Linked DNA regions of Homo sapiens. The protein of the gene in region 1 binds, or shares a complex with, the protein of each later gene. Each region holds a gene or a part of one and is shown in the gene's direction. Other genes may lie near its edges.

Evidence for each region.
Region 2: TCTN1 (region 1) and B9D1 share a complex: the UniProt entries of both Homo sapiens proteins name them as parts of the tectonic-like complex.
Region 3: TCTN1 (region 1) and CC2D2A share a complex: the UniProt entries of both Homo sapiens proteins name them as parts of the tectonic-like complex.
Region 4: TCTN1 (region 1) and TMEM237 share a complex: the UniProt entries of both Homo sapiens proteins name them as parts of the tectonic-like complex.

Annotation. Positions count from the first base shown.
Region 1 is NC_000012.12:110,609,484-110,617,144, forward strand, and holds the start of TCTN1 (tectonic-1 isoform 1 precursor), read left to right. Parts: upstream 1-4,645; 5' UTR 4,646-4,699; coding exon 4,700-4,919; coding exon of another isoform or gene 4,920-4,980; intron 4,981-6,793; exon of another isoform or gene 6,794-6,829; coding exon of another isoform or gene 6,830-6,869; intron 6,870-7,264; exon of another isoform or gene 7,265-7,421; intron 7,422-7,661. UniProt on the Homo sapiens protein: Component of the tectonic-like complex, a complex localized at the transition zone of primary cilia and acting as a barrier that prevents diffusion of transmembrane proteins between the cilia and plasma membranes.
Region 2 is NC_000017.11:19,359,722-19,366,782, reverse strand, and holds the start of B9D1 (B9 domain-containing protein 1), read left to right. Parts: upstream 1-4,059; 5' UTR 4,060-4,213; coding exon 4,214-4,276; intron 4,277-6,394; coding exon 6,395-6,463; intron 6,464-7,061. UniProt on the Homo sapiens protein: Component of the tectonic-like complex, a complex localized at the transition zone of primary cilia and acting as a barrier that prevents diffusion of transmembrane proteins between the cilia and plasma membranes.
Region 3 is NC_000004.12:15,472,858-15,479,881, forward strand, and holds part of CC2D2A (coiled-coil and C2 domain-containing protein 2A), read left to right. Parts: intron 1-364; exon of another isoform or gene 365-398; intron 399-3,057; 5' UTR 3,058-3,075; coding exon 3,076-3,114; intron 3,115-5,865; coding exon 5,866-5,949; intron 5,950-6,354; exon of another isoform or gene 6,355-6,365; coding exon of another isoform or gene 6,366-6,471; intron 6,472-7,024. UniProt on the Homo sapiens protein: Component of the tectonic-like complex, a complex localized at the transition zone of primary cilia and acting as a barrier that prevents diffusion of transmembrane proteins between the cilia and plasma membranes.
Region 4 is NC_000002.12:201,633,502-201,640,525, reverse strand, and holds part of TMEM237 (transmembrane protein 237), read left to right. Parts: intron 1-260; coding exon 261-265; intron 266-1,480; coding exon 1,481-1,537; intron 1,538-3,640; coding exon 3,641-3,778; intron 3,779-7,024. UniProt on the Homo sapiens protein: Component of the transition zone in primary cilia. Required for ciliogenesis.

The DNA of each region.
Region 1 (7,661 bases):
CATGTGTAATCCCAGCTACTTGGGAGGCTGAGGCAGGAGAATCACTTGAACTGGGAAGGTGGAGGTTGCAGTGAGCTGAGATTGGGCCACTGCACACCAGCCTGGGCAAAAGAGTGAGACTCCATCTCAAAGAAAAAAAAAAAAAAGAAACCCAAAAAGAAAAAAAAATAACAACTGTATGGTAAACAAGGAATTCTTATTTCATTCCTGTTGGTGAATGTCTGTGACTGTATGTATGACTTTCTTTTAGAAAAGGTCAAATGCAAATGTGAGACCTTTCAAGAATGTGAAGTCTGCTCAAATAGTCCTTCTGTCCCCGTAATGTTTCAGAAAACACTTAAAGAACAAGAATAGGCTGGGCGCGGTAGCTCACGCCTGTAATCCCAGCACTTTGGGAGGCCGAGGCGGGTGGGTTACTAGGTCAGGGGTTCAAGACCAGCCTGGCCAAGATAGTGAAACCCCGTCCTACTAAAAATACAAAAATTAGCCAGGCATGGTGGCGGGCACCTGTGGTCCCAGATACTTGGGAGGCTGAGGCAGGAGAATTGCTTGAACCTGGGAGGTGGAGGTTGCAGTGAGCTGAGACCGCTCCACTGCACACTAGCCTGAGCGACAGAGCAAGACTCCATTTCAAAAAAAAAAAAAAAAAAAAAAGAACAAGAATAGTACTCAGTGGTTGATGAGGTACGTGGGGACTGGGAGAATGAGAGCAGTTGAGGATTATTTTCTTCTGGGCGTTGATCTGGAAATCAATTACCCGACTAGTTACTTCAGTCAAAATGGTACAGCCAATCCTCCGTCTTCACACAGTCTTGATCCCTTTGTAGATCTAAAGCAACCCCTTTAGGAAGCTTTGTGACTCTGCCACCTCATTTGTGAAATGTTTGGGAGAGATTAATAAAAATAGATATACTAATCACTAGAAAAAAATTTCTACTTTTTCTTTTGAGACAGGGTCTCACTCTGTTGCCTAGGCCAGACTGCAGTGGTGTGATCATGGCTCACTGCAGCCCTTGACGTCCTGGCCTCAAGCGATCCTCCCACCTCAGCCTCCAGAGTAACTGGGTTCACAGATACGTGCCACCATGCCCAGCTAATTTATTAATTTTAAACAGGTTGGAAGCCATGACTTCAGCAATAACAAGAACAACAACAATAATAACCAATTCACCTCAAACCACACCAAAGAGCAAGACAGAGTGGTTGACACTACCTTGTGAAGTTAGCCTTAGTTTTTTTTCCCTACTTACATACTCCTCCTATCTTTGATTTTTTTTCCTTTCAGGCTTCTCATATATGGCGACTTCTCATATATGGCAGCTTCTCAGCACAGAATTCTAAAAAGCTGAATTGTCTTGATCCTCCCAATGTCAGCATACACTATAAGGAATTGTGAATGCCAATAATCCTGGAGAAACAGATGGATATTTGAAATCACAAACATTTATGCACAAACCAAATGTTGAGGTTTTGGGCACAATATGGAGCTCGATCTTAGCCACTCTTGTGTCCTTCCATCCTAATGAGGGAACCTGCTAAGGCCAGGGACAAAAGGAAGGGAGAAAGGGTGTTCTGGGTTGAAAGATGAAAACAGGCTGGCAGAAATGGGTCACCTGTGAAATGAAAAGTTCCAGTGTTCCTAATGTTTGCAAACTGTATCTGGGTAGGTGCAATCCTCATTCAGAGTCAAATATCATAAAATTACTTTGGGGCCATCTACCACGTGTTTGTTTGAGATTGGACAAAAGAGGCGGTGAAATTGGCAAATCATATCATAGCAGGTCCTGGTTGGAATAATGGGATATCAGACTTGAAGAGGACCTCAGAGGTCCTATAACCATAACAAAAATTATAAAACTGGATGGGAGTGGTGGCTTACGCCTGTAATCCCAGCACTTTGGGAGGCCAAGGTGGGCGGATCACTTGAGGTCAGGAGTTCAAGAACAGCCTGGCCAATATGGTGAAACCCCGTCTCTACTAAAAATACAAAAATTGGCTGGGCTTGGTGGCAGGTGCCTATAATCCCAGCTACTTGGGAGGCTGAGGCAGGAGAATCACTTGAACCTGGAAGGCAAAGGTTGCACTGAGCCGGGATCCTGCTACTGCACTCTAGCCTGGGTGACAGAGTGAGACTCCATCTCAAAAAAAAAAAAAAATTATAAAGCTAAAGGATGAGTTATCAAAATTTAATCCAGCAGTCTAAAATTTCAAAACAGAAAATAGAACAAAATGGTTCACAGGTATTAAGGAATAGGAAAGAAAGTAGAGGGCTGGAAGTAAAGAGGTTTAAAAAGGAAAACAAACAGGCCCTGGTTTTAGAAGTTATGAGATGAAGGTTTGGAAAATATACTTTTTTTTTTTTTTTGAGACGGAGTCTCGCTGTGTCACCAGGCTGGAGTGCAGCGGTGTGATCTCGACTCACTGCAACCTCTGCCTCCCAGGTTCAAGCAGTTATCCCGCCTCAGCCTCCTGAGTAGCTGGGACTACAGGTGCCCACCACCATGCTCAGCTAATTTTTGTATTTTTAGTAAAGACGGGGTTTCACCATGTTGGCCAGGGTGGTCTTGATCTCTTGACCTCGTGATCCACCCGCCTCAGCCTCCCAAAGTGCTGGGATTACAGGCGTGAGCCACCATGCCCGGCCTACTTTTGGTTATTTTTTTTAAAAGGGGAAGCATTTAATCAGTTATTAAAAGCAGTCCAGAATTTCAGTCAGATGCTAAAGCAATCCTTTGCAGAAAAAAAGAAGTATCTGTCTTACACATTTGAGTGATTCAATTATATTTTTATACACTGTCTCTGGAATGCCACAGGAAGGTGCTAAAGATATCACTTTGATGATTTAGTTTTGCTAAATACATTTAATAAACTAGATATATATACTGTTTGACATCCTTTTGAATTGGTATATACATTTCTTGAATAAATACTGTGTTATGTTTAAGGTTTTTTTGTTTTGGAGTGCAGTGGCACTATCATGGCTTACTGCAGCCTCAAGCTCTCCAGACTGAGGCGATCCTTCCACCTCAGCCTCCTGAGTAGCTGGGACTACAGGAATGTGCCACCATACCTGGCTAATTTTTGTATTTTTTGTAGAGATGTGGTTTCACCATGTTGCCCAGGCTGGTCTCAACTCCTGGACTCAAGCGATCCTCCCAAAGGGCTGGGAGTACAGGTGTGAGCCACTGTGCCTGGCCACGTCTAAGTACTTCGACATCTACTTCTGAACTGTATGGAGATTAAGTGTCAAAGGTGCAGCCAACATTCTTGGGCTTGGGTACCTCCTAAATAAGCCCATTCAGAATGGAGAGGGTTTCCTAAATCGTAGGGTCTCCAGGTCGTTTTGTAGCATTACAGTGGATTTGCTTTGTTTTCCCCTTTAAGATGTCTAAATTATTTTACTTAATTTTTGTAAAAGATTTTTGTCTTTAAATAGGTTCTTAGGCCTGGCGTGGTGGCTCATGCCTGTAATCCTAGCTCTTTGGGAGGCTGAGGCGGGAGGATCACTTGAGGCCAGGAGTTTGTGACTAGCCTGATCAACATAGTGAGACCCCCTCTCTACAAAAAATAATAAAAGGTATTAAGTGTTCATTTGTCCCCTTTATCACAATACAGCAGACAGAAGTTATCTGGCAACCTTGTGAGATGCAGCTAAAATAAAAAGGTGAAGCCAGTGTTGACAGAGTCTGGGATAGAGAAAATTCAGAGACAGTGATCTCACAGATCCCTGTGCTCCTTCCAAACACCCACGTTAGTGGCGTTGGGACGGCGCTTCCTAAATTTCCGTCCAACTCATCTGCTTGCGTCCGGACATTTGTTAAAAATATTTATTCCTGGCTGGGAGTGGTGGCTCACGCCTGTAATCCCAACTACTCAGGACTCAGGAGGCTGGAGCAGGTGGATCACTTGAACCAGGAGTTCGATACCAGTCCGGGCGACGGAGGGAGACCTCGTCTTTACAAAAAAAAAAAAAAAAAAAAAAAAATACAAAAATTAGCTGGGTATGGTGGCGCGCGCCTGAGTTCCCAGCTACTCAGGAGGCTGAAGTGGGAGGATTGCTTGAGTCCCAGAGGTCGAGGCTGCAGTGAGCCGAGATCGCGCTACTGCACTCCAGCCTGGGCGACAGAGTGAGACCCTGTCTCAAAAAAAATCCCCCAAAAACTGATTCCTGGGTCCTGCCCTAGACTAACTGACTCAGGATCTCCTGAGGTGGTACCTGGAAATCCGTCTTTTTTTTTTTTTTTTTTTTTTTTGGTTGAGACAGAGTGTCACACTGTCGCCCAGGCTGGAGTGCAGTGGCACGCTCACGGCTCTCTGTAGCCTTCACCTCCCGGGTTCAAGCGATTCTTCTGCCTCAGCCTCCCGAGTAGCTGGAACTACAGAAAATCTGCATTTTTTAAGCAAGCGCCGCGGACCGGTTGGAAACCACAGCCGGGATTTACACGCCCCTCGTTTACGCCAGCTTCACACCCGCTCACTAGTGCTCGCCCCTGTGCCTGCCATCGCTGCCTCACCCAGGCGCCGCCCTCCGGCCTCATCCGGGATCCGCCCCCTGCCTCATCCAGGCTTCGCCCCAGTCAGTCTCCGGCAGCTTCTCGCGGCTTCGCAAGCCCCTTCCCGTGATGCCCCGCGCCTGGCTGTCGCGGTTGCCGGGCAACGCGCTGTCCATGTCGCGGGCCTCGCTGGGACTCCCTGGGAGATGAGGCCGCGAGGTCTCCCGCCGCTCCTGGTGGTGCTCCTGGGCTGCTGGGCCTCCGTGAGCGCCCAGACCGATGCCACCCCGGCGGTGACGACAGAGGGCCTCAACTCCACCGAGGCAGCCCTGGCCACCTTCGGAACTTTCCCGTCGACCAGGCCCCCCGGGACTCCCAGGGCTCCAGGGCCCTCCTCCGGCCCCAGGCCTACCCCAGTCACGGACGGTGGGTACCATGTGCCAGCTCCTGGAGTCCACAGTGATCCAACCTCAAGGGGACAGCCCCGGTGAGGACGTAATAATGATAGCTAACTCTTATTGAGCACTTACTGTGTGCAGACACTGCTGAGTGTTCCATAAACGTCCATTCTCTAAACAATAACCCTGAGAAGTAGCTGTTACTATCACTGTCAGGTAAATGAGAAAACCGGGTCTCAGAGTTTAAGTGGAACGGTATCAAACCTTTGAAAATACTTGAAGTGGTCCCAGACAACAGTGATGCAAAGAGCAATAATGAATTCTTGCAGCCCAAGACGAAATTAAGTCGAGACAATGGTGGAAATTAGTGCCTTGGCTGCACTGAACTTTCACTTAAAGAGAGGCCAAAGGTCTATCTTACTAAATGTGACTATGTTAAGACCCTTCTCTGTTGACCTGAATTCTAAAAACCCAGGATTCCTCCTGTGTTGAATTGGAGGTGGAAAGCTATTGAGGGAGGGGTTATGCTCACTTCTTAGGAGTCATATGTAGGGATAATTAACATTTTTTTCAGAAAATGATTAATTCTAGAATTACACATTTAGTGGAAATATTTTATAATCTAATTTGACGTTTGGCTGGCGCCGTGGCTCACGCCTGTAATCCCAGCACTTTGGGAGGTCAACTCGGGTGGATTGCTTGAGGTAGGAGTTCAAGATCAGTCTGGTCAAAATGGCGAAACCCAGTCTCTACTAAAAATAGAAAAAATAGCCGGGCATGGTGTAATCCTAGCTACTCGGGAGGCTGAGGCAGGAGACTCGCTTGAACCCAGGAGGCAGAGGTTGCAGTAATTACCACTGCACTCCAGACTGGGCGACAGAGCAAGACTGTCTCAAAAAAAAAAATTGACATGGATGACTTCACTGAATGACTGTGACCCGCTAAGATTGAGTGCAAAACTTTGTGAATATGCCTTTTCCTGAGATGAGAGTTCATAGCAGCCGATTCTTAAAGTGGTTCATGATCTCAAAAAAAGTTTTTAAAATTTTCCGATTGTGTGAATTGAGAGTAACCCCAATAGATATGCAGTACTTTTAATCTTTTTTTATTCTTTTTTTGTTTTTGAGACAAGGTCTCGCTCTGTTACCCAGGCTGGAGTGCAGTGGCGTGATTATATCTCACTTAAGTCTCAATCTGCTGGGCTCAAGGGATCCTTCTGCCTCAGCCTCCAGAGTAGCTGGAACCACAGGCGTGCTCCCCCAGCTTGCTTTTTTTATTTTTTTATTTTTAGTAGAGATGAGATCTCGCTATGTTGTTCAGGCTGATCTCAAACTCCTGGGCTCAAGTGATCCTCCCACCTTGGCCTTCCAAAGTGCTGGGATTACAGGTGTAAACAACTGTGCCCAGCCTATCCCTTCTTAAGAAGATCTTTTCTCAAATTGATTAAGGCTCAGTATTAGTAAGTAAAAAAGTCATCAGCTGAGATCTTGAACTCTAGGACTTAACTGCGGTTACTGAACCTTTATTTCTCCAAAAGCTCTCCTTTCTGAATTACGAGTAATCTGAAAGAAAAAGTACAGAGAAATATATTTGCTATTTTAATATATAAACAGAGCTCTGTTTTATATTTAAATTGTTGATTTGATGAATTAGTAGGGAAGTTAAATCAGTGATAAACTGGGACAGAAGAAAGCCAAGTATTCAATGCCTGAAACTCTAAAGTTTTTGGACTGGATTGTCTTTTATTCATGTAAGTACTCCATCTGTTAATGCATTTTCTCTCCAAAATAAAGCTATGCTTGAAACATCATTATTATAGCATGTGTTCAAGGCTGTTTTTCCAGTATAGGGGATGAATTTGTGCTTGTCCTCACACTTTATTTTTTTTTTTTTTGGTCACAGGGTCTCACTCTGTCACTCAGGCTGGAGTATAGTGGCATGATCACAGCTCACTGCAGCCTCGACCTCCTAGGCTCAGGTGATCTTCCCACCTCAGACTCCCGGGTAGCTGGAACTACAGGTGCTGCATGCCACCACGCCCGGCTAATTTTTTGTAGGGACGGGGTTTCACCATGTTGCCCAGGCTGGTCTTGAACTCCTGGCCTCAAGTGATTGCCCACCTAGGCCTCCCATAGTGTTAGGATTACAGGCTTGAGCCACTGCACTCTGCCAGTCACCTGTCTTCACCTTTTTAAAGGACCTCTCTTTAGACTTGTGACAGTAATAACTCATTTGTTAACTGTTCACTGTGTGGCAGGCACTGTGCTAAGCATTTCACCTATGATGTATCTCATTTAATCCTTACAACAACCCCATGATGAGGGTACTGTTATCCCCATTTTTCAGGTGGATAAATTATTTGCCTAATTTTAGGACACGCAACTTGTAGATATCGGAGCAGGAGGCTGACTGTGAGTGGAGAACTGGATGGAAAATTGCAGGTGGCTTCAGGCAGTGTTGGTGGAGAAGAGTGATAACCCTTCATCTTGAATCTGGGCTCTGTTCATTAGTACCCTGCTCTACAAGCCAGGTGTGCAGATGCGATAGGAGGCAAGGGCAGCTGAGTGCTGCTTAGACCTGACAGGGGCTCAACAGCTACTTGGTGGATGATTAAGTACACTCGCATCCTGGGTAGAAACCTTTTTCCTAAGTGGAGTTATTAAACACTATTGCTTCGTCCTTAGTAGTCTTACAGCTGCCTATAAGGGCTTTAAGTTTTGAAAACAAAGCAAGATAGTAATTTTAAACATACAGGGAACCTAAAGCACTT
Region 2 (7,061 bases), on another chromosome or scaffold:
GTGAAATTCAGCCGAGTGCCTGCACCAGGCATTTCAAGCAACCGGTGTTCCAAGTGTGGCCCCTCCGCTGAAGAGCCAAGAGGCAAAGACAGAAGGAAAGACCTATAAGGCCTTTGAGAGAAATGATTTGGGGACTTGGAGTCACAGGGACCCTGATTTGAATCCCAACTCTGCTTCCAACTCACTGTGATCTTGGGAAGTCGGTTTGTCTCTGAGCCTCGACTTCCCCATCTGTAAAAGGGGGCTAGGAGCACTGGTCTGGGGGGTCACTGTGAGGAGCCCAGAATCACAGGGGCTCAGGACTTCGTGGGGGTGTAAAGAGAGGGCACATGGGATTATTATTGTTACTGTTGGTCTCAGCCAGCTGCCCTCTCTGCCTCTTACCTGAGACGGGGCAGAGCAGGACTCTAAGAAGTCCCCTGCCCCAGGACCCAGGACAAGCTCCTGGGAGGAGGATCTGGAGACCCCAGCGCCAAGTCTGTATGCAGGATGCCTGCCCCTAGTGTGCACCCCAGGGCTCCCCACCCCTTGAAGGTGCTGAGGGTGGACCCCGATGACCAGGGCAGAGCAGATGGAGGGCTGTCCTCAAGGAGGCCCAGCTTCCTTAGAGATGAGTGAGCTCCCTGTCTAAAGAGAAAAGCAAGCAGAGCCGGACACCCACTTATAATGAGCTTCTGGGTGGGAAGTGGGGAGCAGACTGTGGGGCCAAGGGGAGAGGCGTTCAAGGAAGACTTCACAAGAGTGGGCTCTGAAGGCTACATAGGAGTTCTCTGGGCGGATAGGTAGGAGATGATGAGCTAGGTAGAAGGAACAGCATGTGCAAACCAGGAGGCATGAAAAAGCAGGAGCACCCCAGGAATGACTTCAGCAACAAGAATAGCTGCAATGTATACACCTACTATGTGCCCATAAACTTTTTAATTAAAAAAAAAAAAAGAATAGCTACAAATGTATGGAACTTTGACATATATTATCACATTTAATCCTCACAACAACCCCCTGGGTGTGATGAGGAAACCGAGGCTCCGAGAGGTTAAAGGACTTTCCCTGAGTCACATAGGATTCCACTGCAGGCAGTCTGATTTTGAGCTGGAGGGGTGAGGGGTGGAAGCTGGGCTGCAGAGATCGCAGGGCTGGATGGAAAGAGATGCATGGTAGACCTGCAAGGCCCTGGGACCCGGAGCTGAGCTCTGAGGCTTCAGTCTCCTGAGGTGCAGGGTCCAGGCTGGCTGAGGCCTCCAGCAAGAAGGGCCCAGACAAATGGCTTGGCCAGGCCAGCATCTTCCTGGACACCTGGTGCCGCTGTGAGGGGGCCCTCATCTCCCAAGAGTGGGTGCTCACAGGCGCCAACTGCTTTGACAGGTGGGTGCACAGCCAGGAGGGGTGGTGGAGAGGGGCTCCAGGAGGGTGGCCCCCAGCCTCTCCAGCTCTCCACCTCCCCTTCACCTCCTCTCTCCACAGTTGGCCTTGGTCCCACTTCAGTGTGACCTTGGGTCCAGATCGACTGCAGATGGACTCTTGTGAGATCAGGTTACCATGGGGGAGCTGCTCTTGTCCTCAGCAGGGCCCGAGGGCTCTGGGTTTGGTAGCCTGGTCCTGGCACAACTGGCAAGGGGCAAGGCCTCCGTCGCTCACCAGCGCTGTGCAGGCCGTCCCCCTGGCCACTCAATCCCACTGTTCCCTCTTCCTGAGACAGCTCTGCTGGGGCCAGGGGTTTGAACCCGATTTCAGTAAGGATGGGAGCAGAAGCCTGGGATGGTTGAGAGACTGGGGGAGGCAGATGGCCAGGGTGGAGCTTGGGACCCTGCAGGGGCTCTGGCCAGCTGCCCGGCAGCACCATGGCCATAGGCATGCAGGGAAGAGGGCTGGCGCTGACACCTGCTCTGCTCAAGCCAGCTTCCAGCCTCACCCCTGCCCAATGGCTGACAGCCCCGCCTGCCCAATGTGCTGGAAGCTTCCCTGAGGGGACTGCGTGGGAGTGTACCAGAGGACAGAGCTGTACTAAGAGTGAGGTGGGAGCGAGGAATGTCTAGGAGCCCAGGAAGGCATCTGGGGGTGGAGAGACTTGGCACAGGCACAGGCAGGGAAGCTCAGCAATATATGTTAACAACCAGCATGGCTGGACTGGTGCAGATCGGCTGGATGTCAGCTGGGCTGAGGGTCTGCCCCACCCCATTGCAGATCCCTACATCCCACCCCAAGAGCTGCAGAGTGTCCTGCTGAGATCGCTGTGTGTCAGCATCTGCAGAAACTACCTTCTCCTCCAACCTGACTGTCCTGACCTGAAGGACAGCCTGCCCAAGGACTTCTAGTACACCAGGCTCTCCACTGGGCCCTTGAACTGGTGGTAAGGATTCCAGCAGGCCCTATGCAAGCCCCTATGCAAGCCCCTGAGACCCCTCTCCTAAAGTCGCTTCTAATGCCACTAGACTTGTTAAAGTTAGGCCTGGTCACCCTCCCATCCTATCCTGGAGTCTTCCATTCCCCAACACCCAGGGGTCGGGCTTATTTGTACCCCTGAAGGCCACCCTAGAACTTCCCACCCCTTGGGGAGACTCCCCCATTATGTCCTATTTGAATGTGGGGCCACCTTTGGTATAGCCAGGTCTTAAACTACTGGGAGCCCCCAGTTATTCGATAACTACAAGCATTTTGCTGAAAACTAACTTGTGTGCAACACCGAGCCTCAAAGGCCAAAGGGAGGAAATAATTGGGTGAGACTGATAGAATGTGTGGGAGAAAGCACTTTAACTGGAAAGAGATGGACAGAGCGGGGGAAGAAGGGAGTATGACCCCCTCTCCAGGAGGGGAAATGGGCCCTGTCTTGGGCTCTGGGTGCAGCACTTGGGCCACCAGCCCACCCATCCCCTCCCCCAGCTGCTCTTGTCAGATGTGTGAACTGGTTACCCGCTGCCTCCCTCCCCTGATCAAATATCTTTGCTCACTAGGCAGGGGGTGGTTCAGTGGGTGCAGGCTGGGCTGAGACTGCTCCTTCCCTCCCTCGTGCAGATGGTTGATGGGACTCCCCTAGTCTGCTCCCAAGCTAGAAGCTGCAGAATGTGATGACCTGGGGTCCCTGCTCGGAGCCTGGCCTCCCGGGAGTCTACACACCTGTGAATCCCTTCATTTCCTGGATCCAAGATAATGTCTCCAACGTCTCCTTTGACACCTCTGCCAACAGATGCTGTTGGGGCTGGCCCAGGACAAGACAGAGGCAGTGAGGGTTGTTAGCCTCTGGAGTCCTGGGTTTGAATCCTGACTTAGCTACTTACCTGCCTTTGCCATCTGAATCTGTTTCCTCCTCTGTAAAATGGAGATGTCTTCAATTATTCATTTATCAACAAGTTAGTAGTTACCAAGTGCTTACTCTGTGACAGGCCACTAAGATACAAGACTGTATCTTGACAGATTCGTGGATTTTGGCTAGCAACTCCCCTGAGCGCTGGCTGATTGGGGTGCCAGGCGCCGCCCGCTGCGGGCCTCAGTTTCCCCAGCTTCGAACTAAAGAGCGATGGCTTGGATGTAAGGATTCTTGAGGTCCCTCCCAAGTTTGTTTAATAAACTTTTTCGAGGGCAAGCGTCTCCAAGCCACAGGGGCGCATCCTTTTCACCTGCTTGGACGCTGCTTGGCCCCAGCTGGGGAGGCTCCTCCGAGCACCCGGCATTCCAGAGTTAGCCCCGACAGCTGTGGTCACGTCGCCCGTGCTCTGCAGCGCCTCCCTCCGCGTCCTCGCGGTGGGGCCACAGCGACATCTAGTGGCTGAATGTATTTTAAACACTCGGCTTGCTGAGGGCGTGAGTCGGAGCGCTGCTCCCCAGGACTCAGCTCTCATTCGCCTCTGCGCTTCGGCGGGGACGGGGAGCCGGGCCGAGTCAGAGTGAACACACACTCCCTGCGCGTGCAACTGAGTCGAGCGGTAGGGCTGGCTTTACCCGACAGGTCAACGCTCCCGCCCCAGCTCTCGGTCATACCTGCCCTAAGGAGGGGTGGAGCCTCGGCGTGGATCCCCGCCCCTTGTGCCCCGCCCCCTTATAACGGCGCCCGTTCACTGCGCCTGCGCATGCCACACGCGCACTCGCGTGGCCTTCGCGAAGGTGTCGCTGCCAAGAAACGTGTCCTGCGCGCTACGCCGTCTGTTTCTAGGGCAACGCCGGCGTCTCTTAGCAACCGCGCGCGGCCTAGGTGGGTCCCCCCGGCACCCCCAGACCTGCCATGGCGACCGCGAGTCCTAGCGTCTTTCTACTCATGGTCAACGGGCAGGTGGAGAGCGCCCAGGTGAGCGGCCGTGGACCCCGCCGGGGCCCGCCCCCCAGCGTCCCCCGGGGCCCTTCCCGCAACCCCCCGGGCTGCCCTGTGGCCCCCGGAGAGCCACGTCATTCCTCTGAGCCTCTCGGTTAGGCGGGGGAGGGGAGCCAGCATTGGAGAGCTTGGCGCGAGGTTGCCCGGATCCTGAGTCCCGATGTGCAGGAATAGAAGCAGACCTCGAGATGTTGAGCTAGTACCGAGGTCACACTCGGGCAAGCCTGTGGGCCCTCGCACGGGTCATGCCCACTTGCTTGGATCACTGGCAGGAGCCTCCTGGGGTTAACGCGAGGAGCCGAGGCTTGGCCGAGTTTCCAGCATTTGCGCTGTGTCCCGTGTGGAGTTACTGTCCCGCGTTCTGAATCCCCAGATCCTTGAACTCGGGTTCGAATCCAACCATCCAACAATGGTGGTGGCCTGGAATTGACCCAAGGAAGGTGTGCCTGCTAGGCCCGAGGGACGCTATTCCCCATCCCCCTACACTTTAGAGGAATCATTTATTGTAAATATAAACCAACGCTCACCAAGTCCTCAATATGTCCCAAAGTCGGTGCTCCGCACTGGTCCACCCTTACAGCCTTACCAGATAGGCACTACTAACACCCCCATTTTACAGCTGGGGAAATATACCAAAGGAACTGGCCTGTCTGGGAATTGAACCCACGCCTATCTGACCTCAAAGCTTCACTACACTGTCCTTCCAGGCTGTTGGAGGTGGTGTTTATTATTATTTTATAATATTATTGTGAGGATTGACTGAGACGGTTTGGGTAAGGCTCTGACAGGGCCTGATGCTTTGTAGGTGTCTCCTGCCTTCCTATTTCATCAGGGATACTACTCCATGCTCCCACCCTGTCCGCCTCTGCCTTAGCCTAGTGCCTAAGACCGTCTTTCCCCACTCTCCTGTCCTTTCCTATTAGGGGCTCTCGGCTGGGCTGAGTCACATGTGTCTGTGCTCTCAGCATCAGCGACCCCCCCGCCACACACACACTGACAGTCACACTGTTCCTCCCTGCTCTGCTCTCAGCACCTCCCTCTTTTCAGGGCCTCAGCTCCAGCCTTGCATATGATGGCTTCCTGGGTTCTCAGACCTTTCACTTCAGCACCATTCCCTTACACCAGTGGTCCTCAACCTTTTTGGCACCAGGGACTGGTTTTGTGGAAAACCAGGTGGCGAGGGATGGTTTTGGGATGATTTGGGGACATTACATTTATTGTGCACTTTATTTCTATTATTACCTTGTAAATAATAATGAAATAATTATACAACTCACCATAATGTAGAATCAGTGGGAGCCCTGAGTTTGCTTTCCTGCAACTAGATGGTCCCATCTGGGTGTGATGGGAGACAGTGACAGATCATCATGCGTTAGATTCTCATAAGGAACATGCAACCTAGATCCCCCACATGTGCAGTTCACAGTAGGGTTCGTGCTCCTATGAGAATCTAATGCCGCCACTGATCTGACAAGGAGGTGGAGCTCCCGTGGTCATGCGAGCAATGGGGAGCAGCTGTAAATACAGTTGAAGCTTTGCTTGCTCGCCTGCTCCTCACCTCTTGCTGTGTGGACCCGTTCCTAACAGGCCACGGACTGGTTGAGGACCCCTGCCTTAGACCTTATCTGTGCCCAGCCCTGTGCCAGGCAGTGGGGACACAGAAAGGCATTAAATCTCTTCTCTACTCATGGTCTAGAGGAACTGACAGACTTAGACACAGGCAATCATTGCTTTTATGGAGGGAAGCACGGGGCTAAGGGAGCCAAGAGGAGACCTTAAACCAGCTTGAGAGTTAGAGCAGGCTCCCTGAAGGGTAAGTTTTGAAGGGTGAGCAGGAGTTTTCCGGATGAAGTAGGAAGGACAAATCAGACAAGGCAGAGCCTGAGCAAAAGCCAGGGGCCGTGGCACCTGGGAGTCTCCCGTGGACTCCCGCTTCTTGGTCCTCAGCCTCTCCTCTGAACACATCTCCAGCCGTCTCTTAGACCCACTCCCAGGTGTCTCACGTTCAGAATTCCCCTTGGCTGCACCTGCCTAGCAAATGCATTGGCCTCAGCATGAATACCAGTCGACAGAATCTGTCTGTGCTTTTTTCAGTTTCCAGAGTATGATGACCTCTACTGCAAGTACTGCTTTGTGTACGGCCAGGACTGGGCCCCCACAGCGGTAAGCTGGACTCTTGGGCCTCCCTTACCGCCTTCATGACTTTTGGGGTTTCTGAAGGTGTCATATCCTTCCCCTCCCCATTCAGAACAAGTTAAGAGGTAGAGACTGAGTTCAGGGGAACCCAAACATGAGTGTTCCTGGTAAAGCGGGAGCAGAGGACACAGCCATGGTTGGACTCCCTGATCCATCCACCAAGACTGCACTCAGAAGCCCTACCCTGTGAGCTTCCCCGGGGCAGCAAAGAGCAACACCTGCAGTAGGAGGCAGGCCCCAGTGAGCCAGCCTGGACGTGGCTGAGCTGTGGACACTCTGGCCAGTCCGCTCACCATTTGGCCTCTCCTCAGCCAGTGGGGAGGACCTGGAGTAAAAAGACAGAGTAGGAGCTCTCCTTCCAGGACTTCCCAAGGGGTAGCTTGCCTCCACCAGGTGAGGGACTGTGGTGACAACTTCAGCCCGCTCTGTGCTCTGCTGTTTGCAAAGCACTTGTTTCATCTTCATAGCAGTTTAAGAAAAGGAGACTGAACTTATTTAAGCTCTCTGAGCCTCAGTTTCCTCATTTGTACAACTGAGATGATAATCCTTCTTTTCCCTTTATTGA
Region 3 (7,024 bases), on another chromosome or scaffold:
TTATTTCCCTTTAACATGCTAATTCCCCTGTAGGGTCAGTGAAACCTTGATCTCAGATGAGCTGCTTAAATGACCTGACCAAGTCCCAGTTAAGATTTGGGTTCCAAGGATATTAGAAAGGGCTTATGATTTGTCAGCCATATGCCTGTTGTTTCTCCATGTGTTTTCTCATTTAATCCTCACAGCAGCCTAGAAGAAACAGTGGAGCTTTAAATAGTCCCAGAATGTGGCTATGGAACCACAGCCAATAAGTCAGTGACTTAATCATTCATTCGACAAGTATATATTGAATGTCCATGATGTCCCATAATCCTAGTCTCTGGGGGTAAACAATAAACAAAATAATGTTTCTGCCCTCTTGCAGCTATATTCTAATGGATATGGGCTGACATTAACAAGTAAGTATGTATGTTGAGTGGTAATAAGTACTGTGAAAAAATCATTGTAAGGTAGTTAGGGAATTCCAGGAGGGTGTTGGGAGGAGATCATTGTATTACGAATGGTCAGAGAAGAGCTCTCTGATAATAAAATTTCAGCTGAGACCTGAAGAAAGTGAAACAGCAAGAGCCATGCAGATATCTTGGGAAAAAGGAGAACTAGGTAGCAGGAACCGCAGCTACAAAGGTCCTGAGGCAACAGGATTCAAGTGCAAATCACACAGGGCTTGTAGGCCTTGGAAAAAACTTTGGGTTTTACTCTGTTGACAAAGGGAAATCATTGGAGGATTTTGAGTGAAGCAATGTGATTATGTCACTCAAATTTTCATCAATTTGCACTGGCTTCAATGCAGAGAATATGGTAGCCCAGCAATGTGGCAAGCTGAGAAATTAGGAGTTTCTTGCAGTAGATTTCAAGAGAGAAGATGGTGTTTGACCATGGTGATAACAGTGGAAATGTTTAGAAGTGATTAGATCCTGAAAATAATCTGAAGCCAAAACTGGCAGGATTTCTGATGGATTCATGTGAGACTGAGAAAGGAGTTAAGAACAACTGCAAGGTTTCTGGCCTGAGCAAAATGGATTTCTGTTTACTACAACAGGAAAACTGCAGTACAAGGCAGGCTCAGGAGTAAAAGCAAAGAACTTTATTTGAGGTATGTAAAGCCAAGTGAAGGTGTCCATCAAGCAGATACTTGAGTCTGGAGTTCTGGGGAGATGTCTGGACCCAGGATGTAAATTTGGGAAGTATCAGCATGCAGATGGTATTTAAAACCAAGAGACATAATGAGATGGCCAGAGGAATGAAAACAGGCAGAGCTAAGCCCCACAGCATTCCTATCTTTGGTGGTCTGAGAGATAGGGAGAAACCAGCAAAGGAGTTTGAGAAGGAACAGTCAGTGGGTAAAAGGAAAACCAAGAAAGAACTTGTTCCAGGAGCCAACTGAAGAAAGTATCTCAAAAGAAGGGATGGGTCACTTTCATCACTAAATGTTTCTGACCCTTCCATGCCTGGCTTATTTCACCCACAAGTAAGTGAGAACATGCAAATGACAAACATGGCATGTTCTCACTTATGTGTGGGATCTAAAAATCAAAATAATTGAACTCATGGAGATAGAGAAGAGAAGGATGGTTACCAGAGGCTGGGAAATGTAGTCAGGGGTCGGGGGAGGTTGTTTAATGGATACAAAAAAAAAATAGAAAGAATGAATGAGACCTAGTATTTGATAACACAATGAAAGGACTATAGTTAATAATAATTTAATTGTACATTTAAAAATAACTAAAAGAGTATAAATGGATTGTTTCTAACACAAAGGATAAATGATTGAGGGGATAGACACCCAATTTTCTGTGATGTGATTATTAAGCTTTGCATGCCTGTACCAAAATATCTCATGTACCCCATAAATATATACACCTACTATGTACCCACAAAAATTAAAAACTTAGAAAATGTTTTAAATGCCTCTGACCAAGTCAAGTAAGATGAGGGCCGAGAACTGATCACTGGACATGGCAACGCAGGGGTCACTGGAGATGAATCATTGGCAAAAGCAGTTGCAGAGTATGCTAGACCCCAAAAATAAAAAAACAAACTGGAAAGAGAGGGAATGTTTTGAGGGATTTTTCTATAATTGTTGAAAAATTGAGCAACAGCTAGAAAGAGAAGTAAAGTTAAGAGAGGGCTTTTTTTGGCCGGGCACGGTGGCTCACGCCTGTAATCCCAGCACTTTGTGAGGCCCAGGCAGGCGGATCACAAGGTCAGGAGTTCGAGACCCACTTGACCAACATGGTGAAACCCTGTCTCTACTAAAAACACAAAAATTAGCCGGGCGTGGTGGCATGCGCCTGTAATCCCAGCTACTTAGGAGGCTGATGCAGAAGAATCCCTTGAACCTGGAAGGCGGAGGTTGCAGTGAGCCGAGATCGTGCCACTGTACTCCAGCCTAAGCAACAGAGTGAGACTTCGTCTCAAAAGAAAAAGTGTAGGGGGCAGGGGCCTTTTTTTAAAGGAAGGAAAAAATTACAGCATTTTTTCCACTGGTAGGAATGAGCCAATAGAGCAGGAAGAAAATCCAGATGAAAGTGAAGAATTGTCAGGATCAAGGGCCTGGAGGAGGAGGAATGATGGGGCCTAGTGCACTGTTCAAGGAGGGGCCCCATGGGACATGGGGGTTCATAGTAGCAAGTGGAAGCAGAGGAGGTGGCGGTGGCTCCATGTGGTGGGAGGGGAAGGGGATGTAGAAGCCCTCTCTGGTCTTGTCTTTTTACTTGGTGAAATAAGGGCCAAGGTCAAGGGCAGAGAGTGCAGAGGGGCAGTAGCGGAGATGAGCTGTAAAATGGTCCTTCTGGAGCTGGATTCCAACCAGTGCCATCCAACTCTATGGGCACAGTAAAGGCAGGCTCCCAGGGACAGGGAGACCTGGCATCCTTCCTTTCCTCTGGCACTTATCTCCACCAATCCTGGGGTCTGCCAGGGTTCCTGGTGAGTGGAAAGTCTACCCAGCTCAAACACTTCACTTACCATCATGGCCAGCCTCTTACATATCCATAGTAAGAGAAGCAATATTTCATTGATTTCAAAATGCCTGACTTCTTCATTGTTCTTTGTCAGGGACCCATCCCAGCCAAAATGAATCCCAGGGAAGAAAAAGTAAAAATAATTACAGAGGTAAGTGGCCACTTTGATGTCCTCTAGGGATGTGTTTGTGTGTGCATGCTTATGTTACACGTGTTTGTGAATGAGGAAGTTAGGCCAACCAGCATCTATTGCACATGTTAAAAGAAAAGCTTTACATGAATTAGATTCAACAGAGTCTAATTGTACAAAGAACGATTTGTGAATTGGGCAGCCCTCAGAACCTGAAGAGATTCAGAGAGCTCTGCTCTGCTCTGTGGGCAGACAGCATCTATGGACTGAAGATGGAAGTGGAGTACAGAAACAGCTTGATTAGTTACAGCTCAGTGTTGCCTTATTTAAACACAGTCTGATCAGTAGGCCACCTGTGATTGATTGACACTCAGCTGCTGTGATTGGCTGAGACTCAGCTACCTGCTACAGAAGCATACTTCTAAATTAGGCTTTCATTTAGTTTACTAAGATTGCAGTTTGTTATGTAAGAACTCAAAGTACAGAGGTATCCTCAAGCCACATTTAGTTTAATTTAACACACACCGACTAAATGCACCCTGAGGGTGCTATATCAGAGACGTGGTGGAGAAGGGGAGGTGGATGTTGAAGGAAATGCAGTCCTGCTGACATTCCAAGGTCTTACCTCTACCTGAATGCTCCGAAGCTGTTTTGTCACGGTTCTATGAACTCTGACACACAGCAGCTCAAAGTTACTACCTATTATTGAGCATAGCTCTGCCTGAAGCACGCTGATTTCTAAAGACATTCAGAATGAAGGTAACAATTGTAGACACCTGCTAATACAAGCCTCTGTCTGTGGAGTCCTGCAATTTCTGACTCATTGTATGTAAAAACTCATTAAAGCACTGCCCACACCAGAGAAGGGAGGCTGTCTAATTTGGAGACTGCAGACCATCCAACAAAAGAGAGAGTATTCCTCTCAATCCTTACTTCTCTCTCGCTTCAAGGGCTCACTGGCTTGAGACAACAAAGACAGAAATGGAGATGATATGTGCTGTCCAATGCAGTCCTCCAAAAAGCCTGAGGAAACTCATTATAAAACCATGCAGATTAACTTTAAGCAAGATGGCTGGGCACGGTGGCTCACGCCTGTAATCCCAGCACTTTGGGAGGCCGAGGCAGGTGGATCACCTGAGGTTGGGAGTTCGAGACCAGCCTGACCAACATGGAGAAACCCCATCTCTACTAAAAATACAAAATTAGTCAGGCGTGGTGAGGCATGCCTGTAATCCCAGCTACTTGGGAGGCTGAGGCAGGAGAATCACTTTGACCTGGGTGGCGGAGGTTGCGGTGAGCCGAGATCATGCCACTGCACTCCAGCCTGGGCGACAGAATAAGACTCCATCTCAAAAAAAAAAAAAAAAACTTTAAGCAAGATCAAGTACCAACAAACCCACATAAATTTATATTTGCTTATTCATTCATATAACCAAATATATTTTGTGCCTGTAGTCCCTGGGAATACAGCAGTAAACAAACCTTGTTCCCTCATGGAACTTACGTTCTATCTTATTTGAAGTCCTACTGGATAGTTAGAATAGAGGATGAAAACATCACGGAAAAGCAAAACATTACGTAGGTTTCTCACAAGTCCATTCTAAGTCAGTAAAAACTTAGAATTGAATTAAAAGCCATGCTTGCACACCTCAATATAATTATCTTCTTGTAATCTAAGTTGGCGAATCCCCTGAACTAAGAACACTCCCTATTAGTCAGGCCCAAAGAAGGAGTCCAGAGTGAGGATGCAGCTCAGAGGACAAGTCAGAGATCAGGTCACATACACAAAGGAAAGGCCCAAACCAAGGCTATTCTCTCGTTCGACCTCACTTCCGTCCTCTGTTATTGCGGTTCATGTCTTCCCTAACCCCAGTGGCCAAGGGCAGTCAGGAGTAATTGAGGTCTGGCCCAGAAACCTGCATGATATTTCTTTGAAATTATATATCCTTAAAATTCATACTTTGTGTTCCGAATTTGTTTCAGTATAAAAACAAAAAAATCCTAATTTTAGGAAAAAAAAATCTAGTAAGTTTTGTGTACCCCAGAGAGGTTCTGTTTATCTTGCAACTTTTTGTTCACCCAGGGGCACTTGTGCCCCAGTCTATAAAACTCTAGGACTAAAACATTTTAGAGCTCGTAGACTTTAGAGCTTTCAGCTCTAACATTTTATGACTAAAATATTAGAAAGCGTAAGGTGGAAAGAGGAAACGAAGTTTGCGCTGTTAAAGGATTGTTTTCCTTTTCAAAAAAAAATCTGCCAAAATTTCCTTTAACTTGAAGCATTTGTGATGATGTAACATGTATCATTATTATCCTTTTCCTGCTGGTAAGGCTGGAAAGCAGAAAAACTTAACCGGTGAAATCCCTAATATGATTGTGATGTCTGTCCTAGCAGATTCACTTGTTAGTCGCCTTTCTTAGATTGTAACTTTTAAGAGCAGACAGCATGTGGCTTTCAATTCTGTGTCCCAAGAGCATGGAACATAGTAAATGCTCAATAAATGCTGTATGCATGAATGAGGACCTGGAACAATGGAAGATCCAACATCATCTCGTGTATGATGGTCCAATATGGATACGACTTTTCGAAAACATGTCTATGTTGAGAAGAGTGGATGATGAGAGCCGCACAGATTGTTAACTGTCCCCCAACTCACACTCAGCATTACTGGATAGAAGCCCAGGGTCAAGATGGGAGTTTTAATTTTAATACCTAAAAGTCATACCTCTCTTCCTGTCTTAAGATTCTCTCCCTTTTGCATTTTCACAAAGGAGTTCATTGAAAATGATGAGGATGCAGACATGGGAAGACAGAATAAGAACTCAAAGGTTCGAAGACAGCCAAGAAAGAAACAGGTAAGAAGTGACAAGAAACTGTGTCTGCGTATTGTCATTGATCAACAACCCGCCTGCATCCCCAGGGCCATACAGAATCCACAAGGGCAGCCTTCCTTCTTTTGGTACCAACTTTTGGCCTGCTCTGGGGGGCTGTGAGGCGGGGATGCAGATGGGTGGTCCAGGGTGCAGGAGCCTGATTCAGAGACTTATAGATGAGCCTCACAATAAGGCGGGGGTCCATACTTAGAGCATTTTTACTCTAAGTTTTCTCCCATCTCCTGAGAGAGGACTCTAGAAAAGATGGAAGGAGCCTGTTTTAGTGCTTCATTGAAGGCCATGGACTATGATGGGCAGTAGATGGCAGTACACGATTACAAATCTTGGGAAACTCCCTCTTTTTCCAACTCCAAGCCCAAATTCTGTCTTTGAGGCAGAAGCCAACTCCTTTCTCCCGAGCCTGCTGGCAGATCCTCCCCCACCTCTCCGCAGGAGTTCCCCTCCTAGGCTGGGAGCATCCCGTGCAGGGTAAATCTTTTCAAGGTAAGTCCTTGGTAAGAAGTTGTCCTCTGAGAAGGGAGGCAGGGAAGCAGCTATTGTGGATGGGAGCTCTGCTTGGAACAATCAAGATGCCAGCAGGGGAGGGAGGGGAGAGAAGCGCCATTTTGAGCCAGCAGTCACGTGAAGGGGCTGCAGAGAGGGGTGGCCAGGAGAGATGAAGAGGTCATAGGGAGACAGAAGAGACCTCCCTCCTAGCTCCCCCCTTGCTCAGCACACTCCTCGGGGCAATCTGGGCAGAGGAGTCACTTTCAGCCTTTCAAGGGAGGGTCCAGGTGGTTGGGGAGGTACTGCCTGGCCACGTGGGCTAGCTCTCTGGCCACTCCTGGGGACTGAGGAGACCCACAGCCAGACACAGCTCCGAAGCTTTAACCCCTTCCTGTGGGGTCAGTCTGCAGCCGTGCAGCCCAAGGCCAGGGGCTGTGGAGGCAGTAGATGAAAAGGGTTCAAGCCTTTAGCTCCACAGTCACAGGCACAGTGAGCAAGTGGGTGACTAGTGCCAAGGCTGCCACGGAGCTTAGACTGAAGAGGAGAAAGG
Region 4 (7,024 bases), on another chromosome or scaffold:
TTATTAATAGACAGTAGGGAATATGTATATGTAGGTTCAGAAAATATTGACATTATTTTATTAGCAGTGTTATTAAACCACTTAATTATAAACAGTAAACTAGTTTGTAAACTAGCTATTATGTGAAAGCTAATTTTATTTTAAATTTGTAATGATTTAAGTCAATTTTCACTGTGAATATTAACAGGTTTCTAATTAATTGTTTCTTTTTTGTCTTTGTCCTGCTGATTAAATTTGTTTGGTGTTATATGACGTGTTAGTCAAGGTGAGTTAGTTTAATGTAAATATAATATTTGGTGTTCAAAAATTAGTTTGATTCCTTGGTTTGTTTCTCTTAAAACTGAGTCTGAATGGTGTAATTTGTAATTCTACAATATGTTTTTGTGAAATAATCTCCCATGACTACCATTTAAAAATTGTCATTGATACATAGCACTAGATGACCTTTCCATTATAAAAGCACTTCATCCCTGAATGGGGTCACCCAGCACATAACTGTTGGCTAATTTGTAGCTCTATAATGAGGACTGCACCTTCCTTTGTCTCATTTAGTCAGGGTAGACAAGGTTATACTATACTAAAACCCCCAAATCTCAGTGACTTAGTGTCACACAGGGTTATTTCTAATTAATACAAAGTCTGCTATGGCAAAAATGGGGGACCATTACCTTTCACTACCTTTTTACTATTGATATAGCAATCTAGGCTACTTTTTTTTTTCTTTTGTTTTGAGACAGAGTCTCACTCTGTTGCCCAGGCTGGAGTGCAGTGGTGTGATCTCGGCTCACTGCAATCTCTGCCTCCTGGGTTCAAGTCATTCTCCTGCCTCAGCCTCCTGAGTAGTTGGGATTACAGGCGTGTGCCACCATGCCCAGCTACTTTTTGTATTTTCAGTAGAGACAGGGTTTTGCCATGTTGGCCAGGCTGGTGTCGAACTCCTGAGCTCAAGTGATCTGCCTGTCTTGGCCTCCCAAAGTGTTGGGATTACAGGTGTGAGCCACTGCGCCTGGTCTGCAATCTAGGCTACTTCTGTGCTGTGGTCCCACCATCTTAACATGAGGCTTCCTCAGTCACCACAACAAGGGAAGAGAAAGCTGGAAGATTACTCACTGGCTCTTTCAACGTTTGGCTCTGAAATGACACAGATCACTTCTGCTCACAGCCTATAGGCCAGAACCAGTCATAGACTACACCTATGTGCAAGGAGGCTGGGAAATATAGGGGATCAGATGAATATTTGTTGAACCCACTTTCTGTGTCATGGTTTCTAACATTACTGACATGCAGTGTGCTACTGGTACCACACTGTGGGCTCTCTCTGATCTTCTCAATTTCTTGCCTTCTTCCCCTAATCTATAAACGTTTGCCAGGCCCAGGGAAGAGAGGGAGAATTCTTCCCTGTTTAAAAGTTCTCTTCTGACTGTTCTCTGCATTGAATTTTAGGCACCCTTTTCTGTTGACGTTTTTTCTTGCTTTATAGATGATATTCCACTTAGTCGTCCTAAGAAAAAGAAGCCCAGAACAAAAAACACACCAGGTAAGACGTTATTCTTTGTTGTGTGGGATCACAAGTTTTCCCAGGACCTCAGGCGTAGTAAACATCACAGATAAGGGAGAATTAAGGCCCCAGCAGCCCCGAATCTCCACTTCATTGAGGATAGAATTAAGGCCAGTTTGAAGCAGTGGAATTCCTGGTGGTGGTGAGGTACAGGGCAGTGGGCAGCCTGAGGAGTATCTGGACGCATTCATGGAATAGAAGGTGGTGCCATCTAAGCTCCTATTTCCATGATATTCCTGGACTCTTTAAGGTCTTTTATCCCCAGACAACATACATGGTTTTAAGCTATGATTGATTCCAGACCCTTGAACAAGATACTGAATTTAGAAACACAGAGTTCTTAAATCTCACTTCAATCAGAATATCTCTACATTACAGCATGAGTCTGAAGGCATGGCCACATCATCATTTAAATAGTAAAGCTTCAGTCATGAGCAGAACTCGTTTTTGTCTTAGTCATCCACTGATAATCCTGGAAGTTGCATCCGTAACTCTAAACTCAGCACATCTAGAATCCATCGTTGCCTTTAAGAATAAATAATTTTTTTACGTCTCATGATTTTCTGTTAATGGAACCTACCATTTTCCCAGCCCTCAGGCCTGAAACCTCAAGATTATCTTTACCTGATCCTTTAACTTCACTCTTTACTTGAGACCTCTCACACTCCTAAAAGGTTTCTGTGGTTGCTGCTCCTTTTTTAAAACAAACAAACAACAACAAAAACATAAAAGGAATCATACATACTATCTTTGTTTCTTAATACATAGAGTTCTATGTATTCTTAAACAGTGACTTCATTGTATTACATGATAAGAATGTACCATAATCACTGCTCTGTTATTTATTTAGGTTATTTCCAATTTTTCACTCCAACAATGTTGCAGTTCTGCATAAAATAGTGGGTGGTAGGGAAGAAGTACTTCTGTAGGATGGATTGCTAGCAGTGGAATTGCTAGGTGCAGGATGTGTGCATTATTAGTATGACTGACTCTGCTAAATTACCTTAAGGAAGCTTTAGTTATTATCTTGCTACCTGTAGAGTCTGAGAGTGTCTCATTCTCTAAATCCTTAACAACATTGGACAATAATCAATCTTTAAAATTTTTTTGTTAATTTAGTGGGGGAAAAGTAGCTTATTTTAGTTTACATTTCTCTATGTACTACTGAGGTTAAACATTTTCATTTGTTTATTGATACATTTCTATTTTTTTTTTTTTTTTTTGAGACGGAGTCTTGCTCTGTTGCCCAGGCTGGAGTGCAATGGTGTGATCTTGGCTCCCTGCAACCTCCACCTCCTGGGTTCAAGCGATTCTCCTGCCTCGGCCTCCTTGAGTAGCTGGGACTACAGGCGCATGCCACTACACCCGGCTAATTTTTGTATTTTTAGTAGAGAGGGAGTTTTGCCATGTTGGTCAGGCTGGTTTCGAACTCTTGACCTCATGTGATCCGCCTGCTTTGGCCTCCCAAAGTGCTGGGATTCCAGGCATGAGCCACTGCACCCAGTGCAATTTCTATTTCTTTTGTGAAGAAGACAAGCAAGGAAGGGAATGCAGTCAGGTATGTGTTAAAATTCTTTTAAAAGATTTCATGAGGGAAGAAGTTGAAGTGAATGACCAAATGAAGAGACTTATAAATTACCTGCTAACTCCAATTATCCATGATGACTTTATTATTCTTTAACTTATTAATGAAGGACTTTACTATATAGAGGCTGATGAAAATTCTTAAGGCAAGAGGCAAGTAAGAGAATTCTCTATGGTATCAGTTTTTATTATGTTTTCCACCTTTTTCAAAGTTCTAAATGTTCTGAAGCAATTTCTCCTCCTCCTGTCTTTTGCTCTTCTTTTTAGCCCCCTCGTTTTTTCTTCCTCAGCCTTTCTTATTCCTTCATTTATTTCTTTTCCTAACTTAAAGCCCAAAGTTACAGGTGAGGAGGAAGGAAAGATTTGGGGGATAATTAGTTCTGAAAGAGATGGGGTTATTCTATAGGAAACATTCTAGTTACCTTTTCCTCCATCTTTTTAAGATTCAGTGATCTTTGCTCAAGTAATCTCATTTTTTTCTACTCTGTTTTTCTATAGCAAGTGCTTCTTTGGAAGGCCTTGCTCAGACTGCTGGTCGAAGGCCCTCTGAGGGCAATGAGCCATCAACTAAAGAACTCAAAGAGCACCCAGAGGCTCCTGTTCAAAGAAGACAGAAAAAGACAAGGCTACCTCTTGGTATGTGAAGAAACCAAGGTTAAGTTGTGATAGCACTTGTGATTTTGATGACATGATAAAAACCTCTCTGCTTTCATTTCTTTCCCCCTATCCATATCCCACAGGTGGTTTCTTGCTTTTATGTTTAAAATATTTACCACTAGAATAACTCCAATGGCTTAAGCCAAGAATACTTTACAGGTCTCTTTTGATCATATATGTATAGATTATGAGAGGAGGGCAACAAATACAGGACTAAACAGAAAGTTCAGATCTCAGTGCATAGAAAAATCTAGTAAATGATGAAATGGACATTTCAGATTAGTGGGGAAATGGTAGATTCTGTACTAACAATAATATAGTGAAACAACAGCTAACATTTGTTTAGTCTTTCTATGTCCCAGGCAGTTCACAAGGTAAATAAAATACTATACCATTTTTTGGCCTATCAAATTGGCAATGCTTTTTTCAAATTATAAAATCCAATATTGATGGGAAATGGGTGCACTCATGCTTTGCTCATAGGAGCATAGATACAGCCTGTCTGGATTTCTGGGAATAGTAGTAAATTCAATAGCTGCAGTAATTAAAGGATGTTAACTGCAGCGTTATTTATAAGAGTAGAAATTGGTAATGACCCAGATATTTAACGGTGTGATACTGGCTAAATAAATCATACTTCATCCATAAATAGGAACCAGGTACCCATTAAAAGGATTGTTAGGGTGACACAGATAATCATCAGTTGTGTATTATTAAATCAAAGAACAAAGGTTATAAAATAGTATGTATTGGAGGATCCCATTTTTGTAAAATATACTATGTTAATTTCTTAGGGTTGCCATAACAAATTACCACAAACTGTGTGACTTCAAACAACAGTTTATTTTTTCATAGTTCTTAGGTGAGAAGTCCAAAATCAAGTTGTCTGCAGGACTATGCTCCCTCTGAAGTCTCTAGAAAAGAATCCTTCCTTGTTTCTTCGAGCCTCTTTTTTTTTTTTTTTAAGATGGAGTTTCACTCTTATAGCCCAGGCTGGAGTGCAATGGTGCGATCTCAGCTCACTGGAACTTCTGCCTCCCGGGTACAAGCGATTCTCCTGCCTCGGCCTCCTGAGTAGCTGGGATTACAGGCATTTGCCATGATGCTCGGCTAATTTTGTATTTTTTAGTAGAGACAGGGTTTTGCCATGTTGGCCAGGCTTGTCTTGAACTCCTGACCTCAGGTGATCCGCCCACCTCGGCCTCCCAAAGTGCTGGGATTACAGGTGTGAGCCACCGCGCCTGGCCATTTCTTCTAGCTTCTTATGGTTGTTGACAGTCCTTGGCATTGTTTGACTTGTGGTGGCATAATGCCAATCTCTGCTTCCATCTTCACATTTTTCCTTGTGTGTCTGTGTCCACATTTCCCTCTTATAAGGATATCAGTTGTTGGATTTAGGGCCCATTCCAATCTAGCATGACCTCATCTTAACTTGATTTCATCTGCAAAGACTCTTGTTTCCAAATAAGGTTACACTCACAGGTATTATGAGTTAGGACTTGAACATATCTCTTTTTGGAGCACAGTTCAACCCAGAACGTAAATATGTACATACATCTACATAGTAAAAAGAATGGAAGAATATAGCAGTGTTACAGTGGTAGAAGTTTTAGAAGGAGGAAGTATGATTTTTAAAATTTTCTTCCTTCATTTATTTTACTAATTTTTTATATTTTGAGCATTATGACTTTTATAATAATTAGAAAAATGACAAAGAGTTGTATTGGAGCAAAACTCAGGGAAGGAACAAAGATGGGGAGATTAGTGCTCTCCTATTAACATCAGCCCTTATTAATAATTTATTATAATTTTCCTAATTACTTGTCCTTCTAGAAAACGGCGTGTCTTGATTGGATGGAAGAATTATAGGAGTAGAAGGGCAGGAACTAGAAAAGTCAGGAGAATGGAGCATAATTTTGGAAGGCAAGTTGAAGTGGGATGCCACAGTGCCTGGGGGCACTGAGGGTCTATGAGAACGAAGGGGCGGATGATGGCAGAAGAAGGAAAAGAGACAGAAATGGTGCTCAGACTAGCTTTAACTACTCTACAGTTTATTTCATTAGTGGCAGTAAATGTAGTTTCATTAAAAGTGCCCTTTTAGTAATTTAGTTAAGATACAAGTTTAAAAATCAAGATGGATACCAATACCTAGTTTTATAATTTGTGAAAAGTGTGTTTACAGAAATGACTTTTTTAGAAAATTCAGGACCCAACTAAGTTTTGAATCAAAAAGGACCTGTCATTGCCATTCCAAAGTACACCAAGCCTGGCAGGTTCACCTTTCTAAGTTTCTGGATTTAAAAATTGTGTTTTTATTTATTTTGTTCAGGATGACCAATGGTAGGCTCTACTGCTTGCATTATATTTCCAGTCGAGGCTGTAAGTATTTTATTACAATAGAATTGTAAGGTCTTGAAGGTATTCCAGGGAGCTAGTATTTCCAGGTAGGAAGAGTAGCTAGTGGATTAGAAGAAGGCTTCACTGACTCATTTAAACTTAATACCTACCCTGTGTGCAGAAAAGAGTTAATATAGCAGACCTGAGACTGCTATCCTTGGAAAAGCCTGCTGATAAGATTGGCCGTTAGCTGGCATCTGGGAACTTGGATGATAAACAGCTCCCTACACTGATAGAAAACTTTCCCTAAATTATAAGGTGACTCACGGTGCATTTGTGCACACATAGTGATTTTTGCTGAACATCTGTTTCCCTTCCGGGCATCCAGAATTTTGGTATGTGCTAGGCTTATGTGACTAGCCCCTAACCTTGGGCACTGTCTCTGATGAGCTTCTTTTGTACAACATGTGTCACATGTGTTGTCACAACTCATTACTCTCCAGTAATGTTAGTACATCCTATTTGACTCCACTGATAGAGGACTCTTGGAAGCTTGTACTTGGTTTCCTCTGGACTTGGTCCATGTACTTTTTCCTTTTGCTGATTTTGCTTTATATCCATTTGCTGTAGTAAACCATAATTGTGAGTGTGATGATTTCCAAGTCCTGTGAGCCCTTCTAGAAAGTCAGCGAACCAGGAGATAATCTTGGGAATCTTCAGCACAGCCTGGGTATTGGGTTACTTAATTTTTTTCCATATTGTTTGGCATTACAATTTCAATTTTTACATTGAGAGTTTAGAAGTATAACATTTTTAAAAAATTAAAAATTTGTAAGATAGTGAAAACATTTTTGCCCAATTAAAATTCTTGAAGTTCTTTTCTCTTAT